Regions from separate parts of the Homo sapiens genome. Here region 2 is linked to region 1. Evidence: fine-mapped expression QTL. Tissue or cell type: lung. Region 1 holds a variant in brackets; the other region holds the start of a gene. Each region is shown on its reference strand, or each on the opposite one.

The links. PIP is the estimated chance that this variant, and not a neighbour inherited with it, causes the effect.
Region 2: it holds the start of ACSS2, and the variant in region 1 is the best candidate, but not a certain one, in a credible set for the expression of ACSS2 in lung (TOPMed, PIP 0.84).

What each region holds. Positions count from the first base shown.
Region 1 is chr11:34,479,241-34,482,153 of GRCh38, reverse strand. It overlaps ELF5 (E74 like ETS transcription factor 5), which reads left to right. Exons shown (of 7, transcript NM_001422.4): 6 at 1,187-1,382; 7 at 1,840-2,913. The coding sequence ends at 1,936. Among named protein-coding and RNA genes, the nearest start is that of ELF5, 33 kb to the left of the region's middle. The variant G/A (reference allele first, on the strand shown) is at 1,659.
Region 2 is chr20:34,875,128-34,878,040 of GRCh38, reverse strand. ACSS2 (acyl-CoA synthetase short chain family member 2) reads right to left here and starts at 1,429. Exons shown (of 18, transcript NM_018677.4): 1 at 1,218-1,429. The coding sequence starts at 1,395. RefSeq lists silencers at 1,141-1,570, 1,651-1,790 and enhancers at 2,061-2,110, 2,131-2,210.

The DNA.
Region 1 (2,913 bases):
AAAGACATGATCGTAGTTGTGAACATTAGCTTTGGAATGAAAACCCCCTGGGTTCAAGTTCTGGCTCCACCATCTGGCGCCAGATCCAATCCTGGGTCCACTGTGGCTTCATCTCAGAGGAGGATAACAAAGAAAACACCGGGAATTGGCAATCCTATTAGCTTCCCCAGCACTAAGAGATCGGCCCAGAGCAGTGTCAAGCTTGTAATTTCACAAATGTGTGTGTAGAAAACAATTGCTATGTGCTGGGCATAATTCTAACCACTTGGTATGTATTAAATCATTAAATCCTCTAACCTGTCCTAGGAGACAGGTACTCTTTATTATCCCATTTTATAGATGAAGCAACCCTAAAAGTTTATGGTTATAAAGGTAGGAAGAGGTGAATTCAGGACCCAGACTCAGATAATGGGACTCCAGAGCTGGTCTTAACCACCATATCATAGAATAAGAGAAATACCAGCCTTTCATGAAAAACGAATTTGCAGGATCAGTCCACCCAGACAGTTGTGGCTGTGGAATCAGTACAACCATGCTGCCTGTCAGAAAGAAGAATGAAAAGATCATTTGACTGTCATTTCACTCATTCCATAAAAGTTAAACTGTAGTTCCATAGAACATCTGTGAGTCACAGTGTTGCCAGTCATGTAAATTGGGTGTCTCTGAATGTGTGTTTCACAATTGCTTCGATGGGAGACACAGACATGTCACAGCTCAGTAAGTTTCCAGGTAGAGCAATCAGTCATAACAATGGGAAATATTCCACAAAGCAGCAATTCTCATGACCTAGTGAGAAATTGTACATCTCTTCTCTTAAAATTAAAAAAACAAGCTGGGCACGGTGGCTCACACCTGTAATCCCAGCACTTTGGGAAGCTGAGGCGGGTACAACACCTGAGGTCAGGAGTTCGAGGCCAGCCTGGTCAACATGGCGAAACCCCATCTCTACTAAAAATACAAAAAATTAGCCAGGCATGATGGTAGGCACCTATAATCCCAGCTACTTGGGAGGCTGAGGCAGAAGAATCGCTTGAACCCAGGAGGCAGAGGTTGCAGTGAGCCGAGATCGCACCATTGCTCTCCAGCCTGGGCGACAGAGCAAGACTCTGTCTCAAAAAAATTAATTAATTAATTAATTAATTTAAAAAACAATGGTAAATAGTTAATGTTTTCCCCTTTTCAAAAGGCCTCCAAAGTTCTCATCTATGGGAATTTGTACGAGACCTGCTTCTATCTCCTGAAGAAAACTGTGGCATTCTGGAATGGGAAGATAGGGAACAAGGAATTTTTCGGGTGGTTAAATCGGAAGCCCTGGCAAAGATGTGGGGACAAAGGAAGAAAAATGACAGAATGACATATGAAAAGTTGAGCAGAGCCCTGAGGTAAGTTAATAGCATAAAATACTATGAGCCTTCAAGAAGAGTTATATACAATGGCTGGCTGTAGAAAATTACACTGTTTTTGCAGGTTTTTTACTTGATAATGGAAAGGTCATGAGACAAAACTTTGGTTCTTAGTTACAGGTAGGATTATGGTTTGTAAATTGACACGCTGTCCTTAGCATTCTTGGCAGCATTCCCCAGGGATCACTCTGAATCCAGGCCATCTCACACGCCCACACACACAAAGAAAAACACGTTTTGAGCTGAGAATGGTGA[G/A]GTTCAGTCTTCAAGATGTCTGGGAAAGGTTTAAGTGTAAGTTGATAACAGGGCATGAAAATACCAGGGTAACCAAAGACCAGCCTTGTCACCTGAGAGGAATGAGGAGACAGTGTTTGTGTTCTGTTGTTTTCCTAGGGTGCAAGCTCTCCCAGAATTTCTCTTCTGCTTGCTTTTTCAGATACTACTATAAAACAGGAATTTTGGAGCGGGTTGACCGAAGGTTAGTGTACAAATTTGGAAAAAATGCACACGGGTGGCAGGAAGACAAGCTATGATCTGCTCCAGGCATCAAGCTCATTTTATGGATTTCTGTCTTTTAAAACAATCAGATTGCAATAGACATTCGAAAGGCTTCATTTTCTTCTCTTTTTTTTTAACCTGCAAACATGCTGATAAAATTTCTCCACATCTCAGCTTACATTTGGATTCAGAGTTGTTGTCTATGGAGGGTGAGAGCAGAAACTCTTAAGAAATCCTTTCTTCTCCCTAAGGGGATGAGGGGATGATCTTTTGTGGTGTCTTGATCAAACTTTATTTTCCTAGAGTTGTGGAATGACAACAGCCCATGCCATTGATGCTGATCAGAGAAAAACTATTCAATTCTGCCATTAGAGACACATCCAATGCTCCCATCCCAAAGGTTCAAAAGTTTTCAAATAACTGTGGCAGCTCACCAAAGGTGGGGGAAAGCATGATTAGTTTGCAGGTTATGGTAGGAGAGGGTGAGATATAAGACATACATACTTTAGATTTTAAATTATTAAAGTCAAAAATCCATAGAAAAGTATCCCTTTTTTTTTTTTTGAGACGGGTTCTCACTATGTTGCCCAGGGCTGGTCTTGAACTCCTATGCTCAAGTGATCCTCCCACCTCAGCCTCCCAAAGTACTGTGATTACAAGCGTGAGCCACGGCACCTGGGCAGAAAAGTATCTTAATTAATGAAAGAGCTAAGCCATCAAGCTGGGACTTAATTGGATTTAACATAGGTTCACAGAAAGTTTCCTAACCAGAGCATCTTTTTGACCACTCAGCAAAACTTCCACAGACATCCTTCTGGACTTAAACACTTAACATTAACCACATTATTAATTGTTGCTGAGTTTATTCCCCCTTCTAACTGATGGCTGGCATCTGATATGCAGAGTTAGTCAACAGACACTGGCATCAATTACAAAATCACTGCTGTTTCTGTGATTCAAGCTGTCAACACAATAAAATCGAAATTCATTGATTCCATCTCAGGTCCAGATG
Region 2 (2,913 bases), not on the chromosome of region 1:
GATCGCATGAGCCCAGGAGATGCAGGCTATAGTGAGCCTAGAACGGGCCACTGCACTCCAGCATGGGTGACAGAGCAACACCTTGTCTCAAAACAAACTATCTATCTATCTATCTATCTATCTATCTATCTGTCTATCTATCTGTCCTTTACCCAGACTGAGGGCAAGGGTAGGGGGATTTTCCTTATACCTTTTTTTTTTTTTTTTTTTTTTTTTTTTTTTGAGACAAAGTCTTGCTCTGTCGCCCAGGCTGGAGTGCAGTGGTGCTATCGTGGCTCACTGCAACCTCTGCCTCCTGGGTTCAAGCAATTCTCCTGTCTCAGCCTCTCGAGTAGCTGGGATTACAGGTGCCCGCCACCACACCCGGCTAATTTTTGTATTTTTAGTGGAGACGGGGGTTTCACCATGTTGGCCAGGCTGGTCTCGAACTCCTGACCTCAAGTGATCCGCCCGCCTCGGCCTCCCAAAGTGCTGGGATTACAGGCGTGAGCCACTGCTCCTGGCCGATTTTCCTCATACATTTTAACAGACATGGAACCATCTATCAGAACTTCTGAACTATTACTAATACAATCCCAGCCCAAGTTAAAAAAATAAATAAAACAACTTGACATCGTAGTAACTCGTTCAGTCTTATACCGCGTAATTTCCATTAGGATGTCCGATATACTAAAAATAGATCGGGGACTCCATTACTAATCTGAGGACCCCAAGATGGGAACCAGACCCGTTATTGCCCTCAACAGTTCACAGGTTAAGGGTCTCAGGAGGCAGTGGCTGAGCTGGTGTGAAAGGGAAGCAAAGAAAGTTCTATTCGTGGCCCTCCTCCCTTCAAGGCTCCCGTCGCCCCTTAGAGACCCTCTTTTCGCCTCAGGAACTCCCCTTCTCTTCCCATGAAACTTTCACTCTCTTGGCCGACCTCCCCGTCCCAATCTCAAGGAACCTCACTTCTTCCCTCACGGAATCCCGCGTCTCCTCGCAAAAACCCGCATCTCCACCACGGACCCTCCAAGTCTGCAGGGAACTCCCCAGCTCCCATGGAACCCTCGTCTCCTCCCGGAATCCCTTTTCCATTTTCAAAGAACCGCAATTCTTCCTTCACAGAACCTCCATCTCCTCACCCACCCCTCAGCTTCCCAAGGGAGCCCCCGACTCCCCCAGGGAGCCCCCACTCTTCTCCTCACTGACACCCCAGGCCCGCCCGGGCCGGGCCTCACCCCGCGGCTCCTCCACGGAGCGCCGGTGCAGCTCGCGGTAGCGCTGCAGCGAGGGGACGTGCGCGGAGCGGCTGACCTCGGGCGGCGGAGACCAACTCCGCGCCCGGCCTCCGGCTCCAGCTTCCTCCTGGCCCCGGCTCCCGCTGCCGCTCCGGACCCGCTCCTCAGGAAGCCCCATCACGTCAAGTTCCTAGAACCGCGGCCGCCTTTGCGGTCGCGGCGGGTGCCGGGACTGAGAAAACAGGCCGAACTAGAGGCGGGGCCTCCGTAGAGGGGCGGGGCCTGGTGAGTGGGGGAGTGGCTTAGTCTGGCGGGTGGGCGGTGCCAGAGGGGGCGGGGCCGTGTCTGGTTGGGGAGGGATCGAGGTTGGCAAGGACAGAAATACTATAAGGAAAAGTCGAGGGATAGGGGTGGAGCTGACTTGCCGGAAGGAGTGACGCCGTCGAGTGAAAGCAGAAGGGGCGGGGCCGGGTGTGACAAGGGAGAGGGTGGAACCGTGGAGTGCCAAGGGAGGGGCGGGGCCAGGCGGGACAGGAGAGGAGGTGGGCCCATGGAGTGATGGGGAGTAACCCGGCTGGTTGTGACAGGAGAGGAGGCAGAGCCATGGAGTGACCAGAGTGGGGTGGGGTCTTGGAGTGACAGATAAGGGGTTGGGTTAAGGCAAGGATCGAAAGGGAAAGGGATGGACTAAGGAGAGGAGTTGAGTAAGGTCCATCGCGGAGCCGCCCCGTGATCTGATTGCACAGTCCTGACTATCACCAGTTCCTTCCAGGTGACACCCTTCCCTCCAGGTCCCCCCTCTCTGAGCCACACCCACATTCTCGTCCTCCGGAAAAACTTCTCCCATGACCTTGAGGGCATGCTCTGGCGACAGCACCTCCTCTCTGCTCACCCTGGAACCAGCTCAGATTTTCTCCCTCTTATGAGGACATGTCTTCAATCTCCTTGCCTTCACAAATCTCCATCCAGATCTAAAGTACAAGACTCAATAAGTGAAGACTAGGAGACACCTTCAGGTTTTTTGTAATAAGCCCACCTCCTAATTGCACAAATGGCAAACCCAGGAAAGGGAAGGAACTGGTGCACAGTCAGAGAGCAAATAACGACCAAGTTAGGGCCAAAGCTAGGTTCTTTGACTCCAGATTTGGTTTTACTTCCTCGTCAGGCTTGAAGCTAAGGCTTGTAAAATATCAAAGTCTGTGCAAATAGGAAAAATCATTCACATTCTCTTTTTTTGTTGTTGTTTTTGTTTTGAGATGGAGTCTCTCGCTCTGTCGCCCAGGCTGGAGTGCAATGGCACAATCTCGGCTGACTGCAACCTCTGCCTCCTGGATTCAAGCAATTCTCCTGCCTCAGCCTCCCGAGTAGCTGGAATTACAGGTGCACACCACCACACCCAGCTAATTTTTGTATTTTTAGTAGAGATGGGATTTCACCATGTTGTCCAGGCTGGTCTTGAACTCCTGACCTCAGGTGATCTGCCCGCCTTGGGCTCCCAAAGTGCTAGGATTACAGGCGTGAGCCACCACACCTGGCCCACATTCTCTTCTTTCCTTCACAATCTCTTTACTCCACCAAGGGAAACCCCCACCACCACCACCACAACCTGGGCTTAATTACCTCTAGCTTCTCTCTAGCCCCTCCACCCCAGAAAGAAGTCAGGCAGGACCCTCCTCCATCTCTCACCTGCACTCAC